Homo sapiens: one gene and its partners. The protein of the gene in region 1 purifies or fractionates together with the protein of each later gene. This does not show direct contact. Each region holds a gene or a part of one and is shown on either strand. Other genes may lie near its edges.

Region 1 (3,500 bases):
GCTGTGGGCTGAACTGTGTTTCCTCAAAGTCATATGCTGAAGCTCAAACTCCTAATGTGACTGTATTTGGAGCAGGGGCTTTTAAGAAGTAAAGTTAAAAGATGTCACAAGGTGAACGTCACAATCCATTGGAATAGGTGACCTTATAAGAAAAGGGAGAGAGATCTCTTCCTCTCCAGACACACACACACACACCCACACACACCAAGGAAAGGCCATGTGAGCACGTGGTGAGAAGGCAGCCGTCTGTAAGCCAGGAAGAGAGACCTCACCAGAACTCAACCATGTTGGCACCTGATCTCGAACTTTCCAGCCTCTAGAACTGGAAGAAAGTACATTTCTGTTTAAACTACCAGGTATGTGATATTTTGTTATGGCAGCCTGAAAAGACATACATGGGCAGGGAAGACTTCTCAGAGGTATTTCTTGAGCTGAGACTTTTTGTTTCCTAGTGGTGGGAGGTAGGGTTTTCCAGGCAGAGAACACCATGCAATAAGGCACAAAATTTCAGGGAATAGTATGTATCAAGCACTTGGATCATAGAGTGCTTGGAAGGGAAGTGGAAGAGGCTGGAAAAGCAAGCAGAGGCCAGATGTTAGGGTTTAATGTCAAAGGCCAAGAAATTTGCCTAAAAGAAGTCCAGTGGGAAACTACTGAGGGTTCTTAAGTCATCTGAAGTATGTAATAGTATCCATGTTCAAAAGACCATTCTTGTGATTGTGTGAGAGGCCAGACTAATAAAGAGGTAGAGAATAATTTAACTCTGATTTTTGAAATGTGCCCGATGGAGCCCTCAGGGTCCTAAGTCAAGGATCACCATGAAGCTGGAGGAGGAGGCTAAGTGGGCAGGGTCATGGGATCCCATGTCTACTTCACCCACATAAGTTCTGTGGCCCTAGACTAGACCTGGAATCTTTGTTACACTCAGGACAACTAGTCTAGAATATTTTACTTCAAAGACTGTACTGAAAGAGGCTACATAGGGAGGTCAAAGGCACCTGCTTCAGCTCTTTTAGCTATGGTGAAAAAGTCAGGGAATTATCAAGAATTCTGAGAGAAATGTGACTGGACCCATGCCAGGAAGATGTCAGAACTACTAAGAAATACCAATGGGGTGGACTGTTATCAACCCCAGCTGAATGACAGGCCATATGCAAAGTCCTAGACTATTATGGCTCTTAGATTTTCAGACTACACCCAGTTGATTAAATGAGTCTGTGTGATAAATTGAAATGTAAAAGGTTATTTTCATGCCATGGAGATCTGCTCTTGTCGGATATATTTTCATCTGAAAATATCGATTAAAATGATTAATATAGACATAACAAAAATGACTAACTTGCTTTAGAGAAAAGATGATATCTCTTAGGAATGAGCTTTAAAATCTCACGAGCGGTTTTTGGCAACTGCATAGCAGAACTAAAAAGAATGCAGGTTAAGTATCTCTTACCCAAAATGTTTCACAAGTAAAATAAAACAGAAGTGTATCAGATTTCAAATTTTTTTTAAATTTTGGAATATCTGCATAAACAATGAGATATCTTGGGGATAGGGCCCAAGTTTAAACATAAAATTAATTTCTGTTTCATATACAGCTTATGTACATAAGCTGATGGTAATTTTATACATATTTTAAATAATTTTGTACAAGACACAAAGGTTTGAATGCATTTTTGAATGCAACCTGTCACACGGTCAGGTATGTGAAATTTTCCACTTGTGGCATCGTGTTGACACTCAAGAAGTTTTGGTTTTGGAGCATTTTGGATTTTGGATTTTATGTATTATAAGATTGTAAGGTAAAAACTATGCCCAGGAGAGGGCAGTGCAGCCTTCTGTAAAGTTAACTAATAGGCCCAATAGAAAATAGTGTGAGCATTAAGAGCAGAGATGTTCTAATTCATGAAAACTATTTTGTGTTAAGTCACTTTACCTTTTTAAAACATGAGAGACATACTGCCACTTCTATGTCCCTTGAAGAGACAGCACAAGGGAGAGCTGCTTAAGTCTTGTAAAAAAAAATTCTGGAAAACTTTAGCTCCCTAAAACTGAAGAATTGTATCAAAACTGAAGAACTGTATCAGTTCTAGCAGGTTTCTACTGACTTTCCTATTTTAAACAATTATCTTTGTTTCTGAAAACTGATTCAATAAACTAGTTTTTAAAAGAGATTAATGTCTAAAATTTTATTTGTTTATATTCTCCTTTAATTTACACTGTACACATCTCCAAGAGCTGATGAAAGTATTCTAAACGGTTTCCTGTGGAAATCTGTAGTACAGAAGTGTTTCTCAAATGAGAGTCATCCTAACAAGGTAGCTGCCATCCTAAAACTGTATAGTTATCTTTATTTTTTTTTCCTGCTAATTCTAACTTTGAGCAGACTTGTGAATTACCACTATGGACTTGACAGTCATTCATAAGCACAGGTTTCAAATACTGATTTTAGATTTATATGATATGCAGTAGTACTTTCAAAACAACCTAAAGATAAGATCTATAGAAAATTCACATTTTTGACTCACTAACATTGTCTTGTGTATATATGCACTTCATTCAAACCAAGACACTACAATTAATTTTTTTCTTAAAAAAATTCAAGTGTTTCAATGGTTTTTCACTAGTAACTTTACAGCTAAAAATTTTAAAGAGATCTAAATTCAACTTCATTTCCTGATAACTAACATATACATGCTTGATTCAGTATTCATATTTGTTTACGGAAAATGTAGACATGAGATGTAAAGTTACCAATTTTTAAGAAGAGAATAATTAAATTATTAAACAGGGCCAGGCATGGTGGCTCACGCCTGTAATCCCAGCACTTTGGGAGGTTGAGGTGGGCTGATCACTTGAGGTCAGGAGTTTGAGACCAGCCTTGCCAACATGGCGAAACCCCATCTCTACTAAGAATACAAAAAAGAAAAATTAGCCAGGTGTCGTGGCACAAGCCTGTAATCTCAGCTATTCAGGAGGCTAAGGCAAGAGAATCGCTTGAACCAGGAAGCGGAGGTTGCAGTGAGCTGAGATCACACCACTGCACTCCAGTCTAGGTGACAGAATGAGACTTCGTCTCAAAAAAAAAGTAACAAATAAATTATTAAACAGTCCTGGAGGATTACCACAAACTTATTTACCACCAGAAAGATGATATATTCAGTATTTCAGGCTCGAAGGAAATCTTAAAGACAGCAAGCAAATCCAACAACTCTAAATAGTTATTATGGTCCAATTCACTAAGTCAAACTTAATGACAGTAAGACAGAACACTTTTTATGTTGTATTCATTTCTCAGAAAAGACAGTAACAGGTCTGCAACTTAGCAACCATGCTGGAGAACTCGAAGATATCTCCACTGTCTGAGGAAGTATTGCAAAAAGTATAAATTACTAATGTGGTTGCAGTTTTCAAAACAATACCTCCAGAAGTGCAGTTCGAATCCTTCACATTTTTCTTTGCATTTTAAACAAGGGGCTCCAAATCCTTGCTCGTGACCTAAG
Region 2 (3,500 bases), on another chromosome or scaffold:
AGTAGCTGGGATTATAGGCGCCCACCACCACTCCCAGCTAATTATTAGTAGAGACGGGATTTCACCATGTTGGCCTGACCTTGTGATCTGCCTGTCTTCAGCCTCCCAAAGTGCTGGGATTACAGGCGTGAGCCACCACATCTGGCTTCATTTTAAAATCTTGAACACCTGGATAACATGCTATTTAACCTAAGAAATTCCTCAGCATTTGGTGAGAGAGAATAGAGTATCATTTGCTCGCTAGTTGAGATAAAACTGGCCAAAGGTTTTTTTTTTTTTTTTTTTAAATACAGACAGGGTCGGCTGGGCATGGTGGCTCATGCCTGTAATCCCAGCACTTTGAGAGGCAGAGGTGGGCAGATCACTTGAGGTCAGAGTTTGAGACCAGCCTGGCCAACATGGTGAAACCCTGTCTCTGTTAAAAATACAACAATTAGCTGGGCGTGGAGGTGTGTGCTACTTGGGAGGCTGAGGCACGAGAATCGCTTGAATCCGGAAGGCAGAGGTTGCAGTGAGCCGAGATCGCGCCACTGCACTCCAGCCTGGATGACAGGGTGAGACTACATCTCAAAAAAAAAAAACCCAAAAAATAGAGACAGGTGTTGTCTCTATTGCTGTGTTGCACAGGTTGGTCTTGAACTCCTGGGCTCAAGTGGTCCTCCTGCCTCAGCCTCCCAAAGTGCTAGGATTACAGGCATGAGCCACTGTACTCAGCCCAAAGTTTTTTTTTTTTTTTTGAGATGGAATCTTGTTCCCGTCTTGCAGGCTGGAGTGCGGTGGTGCAGTCTTGGCTCACTGTAACCTCCACCTCCCAGGTTCAAGCGATTCTCCTTCCTCAGCCTCCTGAGTAGCTGGGGTTATAGGCGTGCTCTACCATGCCTGGCTAATTTTTTTTGTATTTTTAGTAGAGACAGGATTTTGCCATGTTGGCCAGGGTGATCTTGAACTCCTGACCTCAGGTGATCCACCCACCTTGGCCCCTCAAGGTGCTAGGATTAAAGGCGTGAGCCACCATGCCCGGTCATTTTTCTTTTTTTTAATTAAAAACCTTTTTTAAGAGACACAGTCTCACTCTGTCACCCAGGCTAGCATGCAATGGCATGATCATAACTCACTGCAGCCTCGAATTCTTGGGCTCAAATGATCTACCTGCATAGGTGGTACTACAGGTATAGGCCTCTATGCCTGACTAATTTTATTTATTTTTGTTTTTCATAGAGTTGGGGTCTTGTTATGTTGCCCAGGCTAGTCTCGAACTCTTGGCCTCAAGTGATCCTCCCTTCTTGGCTTTCCCAAATGTCGAGATTACAGGCGTGAGCTATGGCATCTGGCCAAAACTGGCCAACGTTGAATGAGTATGTTAATTCACCAATTTAAAAATCCAGCCGGGCGTGATGGCTGATGCCTGTAATCCCAGCACTTTGGGAGGCTGAGGTGGGTGGATCACAGGGTCAGGAGTTCGAGACCAGCCTGGCCAATATGGTGAAACCCCGTCTCTACTAAAAATACAAAAATTAGCTGGGCGTGGATACGCACGTCTGAAATCCCAGCTACTCAGAAGGCTGAGGCAGGAGAATTGCTTGAACCTGGGAGGTGGAGGTTGCAGTGAGCCGAGATCGTGCCATTGCACTCCAGCCTGGGTGACAGGGTGAGACTCCATCTAAAACAAACAAAAAAAAACTGGCTCACCTTGTTTTCAAGTGTTGACATAAACAGTCAAAAGCACCACTCAGTCTTTTATAATGCAAGTGAAATCAGTGCTGTGCCCCTTCAAGGAACCACGTGACAGTTTGTTCAGTTGAGCACAAGTTCCTTGCAGGAACAGTTGCTGGCAGAAGGGCTGTGTCTACAGCCCATGTGGAACCAAGGACAGTTTTCCCATTCAGTAGGGAGCATCCCTCAGCCTTGATCTTCATTTCTTGGCTGGGCGCAGTGGCTCACGCCTGTAATCCCAGCACTTTGGGAGGCTGAGGCGGGCGGATCACGAGGTCAGAAGATTGAGACCATCCTGGCTAATACGGTGAAACCCCGTCTCTACTAAAAATACATAAAATTAGCTGGGCGTGGTGGCGGGCGCCTATAGTCCCAGCTACTTGGGAGGCTGAGGCAGGAGAATGGCGTGAACCCGGGAGGCGGAGCTTGCAGTAAGCCGAGGTTGCGCTACTGCACTTCAGTCAGGGCGACAGAGCGAGACTCCGTCTAAAAAAATAAATAAATAAAAATAAATAAATAAAAATCCAAACAGCTGTTTATATGGTAGTTATAGAAGAGTGGATATACATATGTAAAAATTCACCAAGGTATATACTTAAAGATTTGTGCATTTCATTCTGTGTGCCTCAAACTGTAACAACTTGATTTTATTAATTTATAATTAAATTACCCTTAAAGGTAATTCACAGCGGGCTACAGTGACTCATGCCTGTATCCTAGCACTTTGGGAGGCCAAGGCGAGAGCATTGCTTAAACCAAAGAGTTCAAGACCAGTCTAGGCAATATCGTGAGACCCCTATCTCTACAAAAAACTAAAAAATTAGCTGGGAATGGTGGTCCGTTCCTGTAGTCCCAATTGCTCGAGGGGCTGAGGTACGATATTGTTTGAGCCTGGAGGTTGAGGCTGCAGTGAGCCCTGTTTGTGCCACTGCATTCCAGCCTAGGCGACAAAGTAAGACCCTGTTTCAAAAAAATAAAAATAAAAATAAAAAGGTAGGCCAGGCGCAATGACTCAGCCTGTAATCCCAGCACTTTTGGAGGCAGAGGAGGGCGGGTCACTTGAGGTCAGAAGTTCAAGACCAGCCTGGTCAACATGGTGAAACCCCATCTCTACTAAAAATACAGAAATTAGCCAGGCATGGTGCCGCATGCCTGTAATTCCAGCTACTCGGGAGGCTGAGGCAGGATAATTGCTTGAACCTGTGAGGCAGAGGTTGCAGTGAGCCAAGATCACACCACTGCACTCCAGCCTGGGCAACAGAGTGAGACTGTCTCAAAAAAAAACAAAAACAAAAACAAAAAATGCTGGGCGTGGTGGCTCACGCCTGTAATCCCAGCACTTCGGGAGGCTGAGGCAGGCAGATCACATGAGGTCAAGAGTTCAAGACCAGACTGGCCAAAGTGGTGAAACCCCATCTCTACTAAAAATACAAAAATTAGCCAGGTGTGGTGGTAGGCTCCTGTAATCCCAGCTACTTGGGAGGCTGAGGCAGGAGAATTGCTTGAACCCAGGAGGCAGAGGTTGCACTGAGTCGAAATCATGCCATTGTACTCCAGCCTGGGCAACAGAAGCGAACTCCGTCTCAAAAAAAAAAAAAAAAAAATTAAACTAAAGTTCTATTCTAAATGCTACTCCAACATTTTCAGCACTGTTTGTATATACATGAACTACCTCTTGCAGGAAACACAATAAATTGATAAAAAGGCCTTAGGTAGCAGAGGAACAGGGGAGAAGAGACATGATTTTTACATATATCCTTTTTGGGCTTTAAAATTGTATACCAGCT
Region 3 (2,946 bases), on another chromosome or scaffold:
GGAAACTTACAATCATGGCAAAGGGTGAAGGGGAAGGAAGCACGTCCTCGCCTGGTGGCAGGAGAGAGAGGGAGAGGTGCTACACACTTTTAGACAAGCAGCAGTAGGAGGATGGTGCTAAGCCATTAGAAACTGCCCTCATGATCAAATATCCTCCCAGCAGGCTGCTCCTCCAACACTGGGAATTGCAATTTGACATGGGATTTCGGTGGGGACACAGAGCCAAACCATATCAATGAGTCAGTAGTATATTTCGTTATTTTTTTAAAGGATATGAAGAATGAATTTTGGTGTCATTTAATATTTTCTTCTTTCCTCTACTTTTGCCTTTTTTGGGTAAAAATCTAGTGTCTCTTTTAGCTTTTCTCCCTTCTTTTGCATGTAATACTGGGACTCATTTGGACAGTATCAGTCCTCCTGAGACTGTCAAGTATTGATTTAGTGACAGGTGTTTAGAATGATGTTGTCTACCACGCTTGATTTCTACAACTTAAGTCTGATGTTTCCTTTTCTGGAGTCAATCTTGCCACTCATCTTTAGTTCAACAAACTTTCCTTGAAGTTTATTTTGTGTCAAGTAGGTCAGAGTTCCTATGCTAGAGGTGAGTACCTCACTATCCAGAGGAGAAGGAAGACAACCTGATTTTTTGGTGTGTATTCTATCATAAAACATGAAAACTACAATATTTTAATGGATAGCACATTTTCTAAGTAATTTAAACCTTAATTAACCAAAACCCAACTAATTTTAAACTTAAGTAACCATGTTTTTATATTCTCAATTTTCATGAAAAAAAATCACACAAAAAGGAAACTGACTATTTTTAAGTAAAATATCAATTATAATTGTATATCACTTGCTTTCATGAAAGTATTCCAAATCATTAGGAATGATTAGGTAGTCTTTTTGTGTATCTGTTTCTAGAAATCTGTTTGTATTATATAGTTTTTCTATTAAGAACTTTTTAAGAAATCTCTTCTGGGGGCTTTTGTTTATTCTTAGTAGTTGGAACTAATGTAGTCTGACTAAAATACACATGGGTGTCTGCTCTGTGATGTTTAAACTTATCTGTTTTGTTTGTTTTTCATTTCAGGAAGCAGAAGTGCAAGCAAAGCAGCAAGCATGAACCTTAAGCACTGTGCTTTAAGCATCCTGAAAAATGAGTCTCCATTGCTTTTATAAAATAGCAGAATTAGCTTTGCTTCAAAAGAAATAGGCTTAATGTTGAAATAATAGATTAGTTGGGTTTTCACATGCAAACATTCAAAATGAATACAAAATTAAAATTTGAACATTATGGTGATTATGGTGAGGAGAATGGGATATTAACATAAAATTATATTAATAAGTAGATATCGTAGAAATAGTGTTGTTACCTGCCAAGCCATCCTGTATACACCAATGATTTTACAAAGAAAACACCCTTCCCTCCTTCTGCCATTACTATGGCAACTTAAGTGTATCTGCAGCTCTACATTAAAAAGGAGAAAGAGAAATAACCTGTCTCTCATTCCTAAGTTGCCTCATTAATTTTCATGAACAAGAATATGTACCTTTTTGATGCTATATTACTGCGATTAAAAAGTTCTTGCAGGTAATGTTTATGATATGTTAAACGTTGTAATTTCCTATCGTAATTATAACATTCCCATTCTTTTGTAGATGAAACTTCTACATATTGAACCACAGATTTTCTGAGCTTCTAAATGTAGCCTTTCATTGCACATTTCAGTGATCAGAATAGATATCCTTTTACACGCACAAAAGCAATAGATTCATTCAGTGGACAAGTTCCTTGTTTAACTACACAGCTATGATGGAATGATATATCCAAGTTCCTTGCCTCAGTGAAATATGCATATGTATATCATGAAAGTGGGATGCCAAGTAAGCTTAAAATGGCATTCTCTAGCAAAGAGATTAGACTTTTAAATAACTCTTATAAAACAGGTTGGCGATCATTTCCCAAGATTGGTTTCCCTTGAGTTTTTGCTAAAACAAATCTTAGTAGTTTTGCCCGTTTAAAACAACTCACAATCGTAAATGCTACTATTCCTAAGATATCTTACCTTTTTATTTCAGTTTAGCCATGTATTGTATGAGTGTATTAGTCTAAGCAGTGAGAATCTTTTCTATGCCTCTATTCCAGCAAAAAGTAGAAGTATCAAATAAAAAGGGCAACTTTTAAAATATTAAGCCTGAAGACTTCTAAAAAGACAAGAAACATGGCCTAAATAACCAACATAGATTTACATAGTAAGTTTCACACTACCTTATTACCAAAAGCAAACACCTCTTACTTTAAACTACATTATCATGTATATCTATTGTATGCTGGTCTTTACTTTTTGCCAAAATCAACATATAATGAAGAGATGCCTTTGTTTCATGAGATTCAAACTTGATGCTATGCTTTAAAATAAACTCAGTACTTTTAGAAACATAACTTATGTGTTCTTGGAGTTTATATAATAGTAATTTTAGATGAGTAATATCTTTTTTTAGAGGGTTGGGAATGCAAAAAGAGAAAATAGTAGAAAGAAAAAGCTTTGAATGCAATTCAAGGTTTTCGTTTTCTATGTTTTCTTTTTAGGGCTTTTAATCTCACAATACACATGAGGTCAAATGAACAATTTTATTGGGTTTACAAAAATACGGCATAAAGAACTCTAGAGAAAACAGGGTGCTTTGTAATACACTGGAAACGCAAAAAAAGTTTTTTAGTCAATATTTTCTCCTAAGCTTTATTAAATGTTGCTGATGATACTTGCAATATTTTATGTGGTCATTTTCACTTTTATTTTAATGTCAAATAAGTTAACACTGCCAAAATGGGCATTCTTTAAAAATAGATGTATTTTTTGCCATGTTTATATAACTTAAAATTAACATAGTATATTAAAGTAAAAGGTTGAATTGAGTCTTCCTAAACTGAAATATTTTATT
Region 4 (3,971 bases), on another chromosome or scaffold:
AAAATTAGCTAGGAATAGTGGCACACACCTGTAATCCCAGCTACTTGAGAGGCTGAGGCAGAAGAATCGCTTGAACCTGGGAGGTGGAGGTTGCAGTGAGTTGAGATCGCACCATTGCACTCCAACCTGGACGACAGAGCAAGACTGCATCTCAAAAAAAAAAAAAAAAAAACTTTAAGGTAAAAATAATTAATGTATATAAGGAGGGTAATTTAAAAATAAAAAATTGTTAAAGTTTTTGAAAATATAATAATTTAAAATTTATGTGCTCTTCATAACATGGCCTCAAAATGTATAAAGGAAAAATTGACAGAAAAAGAAATAATGGGTAAATTCACAATTATAATGAAAACTTTTAATACATCTTTTGAAATAATTGATACGTAAAATTTGGACTACACAATAAATCCATTTGATTTAATAGATTGATTGATTGAATGATCGGTCTATCTAAAATATTGCATCCAACAAATGTAGAATGCACATTCTTTTCAACACTCATGGAATATTTTCAAAAATTGACCATATAGTAGAATATAAAGGAAGCTTTAGCAAATATATAAGGAGAGAACTCAGTTAAGATGTGTGATCTGATCTTAGTGCAATTAATAAAAAATAATAACATAAGTATATATTATGTATAATAATATAAAAGTTCAAAAGACAATAATAATAAAAACAGAAAATTCCCATATGTTTGGATGTGGTAGTGGTTGAGAGGCATGCATAGGACACAGATGTAAAAAGGACACTGTCTTGGTTTGCTGTATGTATTCAGGGATTGTTTAAATTTATTTAAGAAGATATTCACATAGTACTCATGCAATAGAAAAAGCTACTTTGCTGTTGCAGAAAATTTTACTCATACTCCTTCCTTTTCTCTGCCAATGCTAAATAAATTCTTAACCCAAAAGGGTGATTTTTAAAAGACACATGTTCTTTTCAACATAGTTATAAGTTGGACGCAGATTTGGATAAGCTCTCAGTAGTTCATCTGCAGCTGTGTACAAACTTTATCCCGGGTTGTTCAGGCCCAACACAGCTACTCTGAGACCAGATAACTAAAAAAACTAAAAAGAAGCTATACTGCTTTAAGTGAAGAAAGCTCCAGCCCTCAGGTGGAGTCATTTCCGGGCCCTGTGATAAAGCTCAGCTGGGAGGCTCCTCAGTCATTACTACAGGGCAGGAAGGGCACGTTCTCATCAGCATGGTAAGTGACTACACGCCTATGCATTGTTGTAGGAAATTTTACTAATCATATTTGGCCCTTTTCCCACAGCAAACAATTCTTAATAAAATTGTAATGCAAGAGAAGACATTTGTAAAGAAACATTTGTTTCTTTCAATGTCCAAGTAGATGAGTTGGGAGCAGATGTGGACAGGCTGTAATCTATTCCTCTGTAATGTTGCTTCTTTCAAGGTAAAGCTCAGTTGATTTGCAGTAGCTCACTGCCATTAATTGAAGCACTGAAGCAAAAACCTTTCCTTCCTTTAGTTTTCACCTTTGTTTTAGGCCCAGAGTGCTGATTTTTCTGTAGATATTCATTGCTTCACTTTTCGTTAGGCTGTTAAGAGTTTCTGAGGACTTCAGACTTAGGTAACCGTGGCTAACCTCATAAATGCCTGGCAGGGTAAAGTGCGCAGACATCTTCTTTGCCCTCCCTTGAGTTTAGTTCTTTGGGCACCACAATGAATAGAATAACTTACAATAATTCTGTTTTGGGATGACCTTTTCAGATCCATTTGCCCTTTATTTTTTTCTGTGCCAGTTTTTCAGTATCTTTGAATTTTTAATTCTTCAATGGAAGCAACATTTCGAACTGCTTCTTGATCTTTGATTTCTCACCCCATTGGTCTCTCTGTCCAACATTTAAAAAATTTTAAATTGTTTTGCTTTTAAAAATTATGCCTTTCAACATGAGAGAGACTTGTGATAATAGCATGTTCTGTATCTTATCACTGTCAACATTCTGGGTGTGATTTTGTATTATGGTCTTGCAAGATGTTTCCACTGCGGGAAATGGGTAACGGATGCAAGGGATCTTCCTATGTTATTTCTCACAGCTGCATATCAATCTACAAAGACCTCAAAATTGAAAGTTTAACTGAGAGTTATGCTTTTCTAGTAATTCAAATAATCCTTATAGCAGCGTTTAATAATGTGCTATGACTTATCAGTGTTGACGTTCAGTGGACATTTTATAGTCTTCTACTTTATAGTGTGACTAATATTTTCATAGAGAATTTGGAAAAAAAGGGAGAGGCTAAGAGAAGAATAAGGCAAAGATAGTCTTCTACACCCTTGGACAGAGTTATGTTATAAGCTAAGCTCCTTCAAAGACGAAGGATGCTTGTTAGTCCAGGCTATTCGTGCTGATTTCAAAAAGAACAGCATCACTCTGCTTTCTGAGTCACTTGAACAGACCACGTGAAGAGGAACAATCTTTTTTTTTTTTAATGTTAGTGATTATTTTTACTGTGACTATTATGAACAAATACCACATGTACACCTGAATTTTACTCGTCACTGTAACACAGGACTGGGTGGTAGCCAGTGGAGAAGACAGAGAAATCTACATGTAAACTTTACAAAGTAAGAGGTTTTAATGATGTAGAAACAATGAACGTTCACCCTCTCCTTTTAAAATGTTAACTTAAATTTAAGGAGCCAAGTTTTGATCAGATTACAGCAGCTGATGTATTTGCAGCACTTTAAGTCCGACAGAAGGGGAGAGGAATAAGATTAAGGTTATCTGAAGCCTGATAAGGGGTATTCGAAGCCTGTTTATAACAGAATATGCTGTCTTGAGAGGTGGAATATTAGTTTGTCCTAAATGAAGTGCTTTCTAAATTAGAGAGACTGATAGTTGCACAGAAAATAAACAAGATGGAAGCCCTACTAAGGTAGTGAACTTGAATTGGTCATGAAGCAGAGGGCTGTTATGCCTTGTGAATCACAGAGACAAAGTACAAAGGTTTGATGCCATTGAGCATGAACAGAGTCCAAGTCAGATTGCAGGGGTGTGGCCGACCAGAGCCCTCTCCTTACTTTCCTCTGACTAGTGGTCTGTGTAGACCAGTGGTCCTCAACTTTTTGGCACCAGGAACCAGTTTTGTGGGACACAATTTTTCCATGGAGTCGGCAGTGGGGATGGTTTCTGGATGAAACTGTTCCACCTCAGATCGTCAGGCATTAGTTAGATTCTCATAAGGAGCACACAACCTAGATCCCTTGCATGCGCAGTTCACAATAGGGTTAGTGCCCCTATGAGAATCTAATGCTGCCGCTGATCCGACAGGAGGCAGAGCTCAGTCAGTAATGCTCACTCACCTGCTGCTCACCTCCTTCTGTAAAGCCCAGTTCCTAACAGGGCACAGACTGGTACTGGTCTGTGGCCCGGGGGTTGGGGACCCCTGTGTAGACCACAGGTGAGGGATTGACAGGAGGCCTGAGGTCTTTCAGTAGTTGAATCTCAGGCTTTAGGGCAGTGTAGCCATGAACAAGGGCAGGGCTCCCCTCAGCTTATCTGGTCAAACAGCCCAAAGGGTCCTGATGATGCAGAAGACATGGGGGTCTCATTCTACAAGACCCTCTAAATAGATTTGTTTCAGCACCACAGTCAATCAAACCACACCAATATTAAGAACAGCGATTGCTATCACCTCAGATTTCTTAGAATTTAGCTTTTACTTTCCTTCTCATTTTTTTTCTTTCCTTCTCTTAAAAACGTAGATCATTGTCTGTTTAACAGAATAGTTGTTTGCCTTAAAAAAAAGATGATTTAAAGTGGGATGGGGGAATATGAAGGTGGAAGAAATAGTAAAGTTTAGACAAGAAAATAAAATCACTACCCAGATATTACTAAACTTAATATCTTGATGCATTTTCTTTTAGATTTTTATGCCTATTTTTGAACATATTGGACATCATACTCTATATGCAATCATGCATCTTATGTGCTTTTTACTTA

The links.
Region 2: the proteins of TES (region 1) and TRAFD1 purify together in Homo sapiens (affinity purification with mass spectrometry, with the first as the bait; one large-scale study listed by BioGRID). This does not show direct contact.
Region 3: the proteins of TES (region 1) and SH3BGRL purify together in Homo sapiens (affinity purification with mass spectrometry, with the first as the bait; one large-scale study listed by BioGRID). This does not show direct contact.
Region 4: the proteins of TES (region 1) and TUBAL3 purify together in Homo sapiens (affinity purification with mass spectrometry, with the first as the bait; one large-scale study listed by BioGRID). This does not show direct contact.

What each region holds. Positions count from the first base shown.
Region 1 is NC_000007.14:116,234,539-116,238,038, reverse strand, and holds part of TES (testin), read right to left. Parts: coding exon 3,420-3,500; intron 2,172-3,419; exon of another isoform or gene 1-2,171. UniProt on the Homo sapiens protein: Scaffold protein that may play a role in cell adhesion, cell spreading and in the reorganization of the actin cytoskeleton. Plays a role in the regulation of cell proliferation. May act as a tumor suppressor. Inhibits tumor cell growth.
Region 2 is NC_000012.12:112,135,560-112,139,059, forward strand, and holds part of TRAFD1 (TRAF-type zinc finger domain-containing protein 1), read left to right. Parts: intron 1-3,500. UniProt on the Homo sapiens protein: Negative feedback regulator that controls excessive innate immune responses. Regulates both Toll-like receptor 4 (TLR4) and DDX58/RIG1-like helicases (RLH) pathways.
Region 3 is NC_000023.11:81,296,102-81,299,047, forward strand, and holds the end of SH3BGRL (adapter SH3BGRL), read left to right. Parts: intron 1-1,093; coding exon 1,094-1,126; 3' UTR 1,127-2,446; downstream 2,447-2,946. UniProt on the Homo sapiens protein: Appears to function as an adapter protein that bridges proteins together or proteins with mRNAs. May function as a ubiquitin ligase-substrate adapter.
Region 4 is NC_000010.11:5,402,029-5,405,999, reverse strand, and holds the start of TUBAL3 (tubulin alpha chain-like 3), read left to right. Parts: upstream 1-1,171; 5' UTR 1,172-1,207; coding exon 1,208-1,210; intron 1,211-3,971. UniProt on the Homo sapiens protein: Tubulin is the major constituent of microtubules, a cylinder consisting of laterally associated linear protofilaments composed of alpha- and beta-tubulin heterodimers.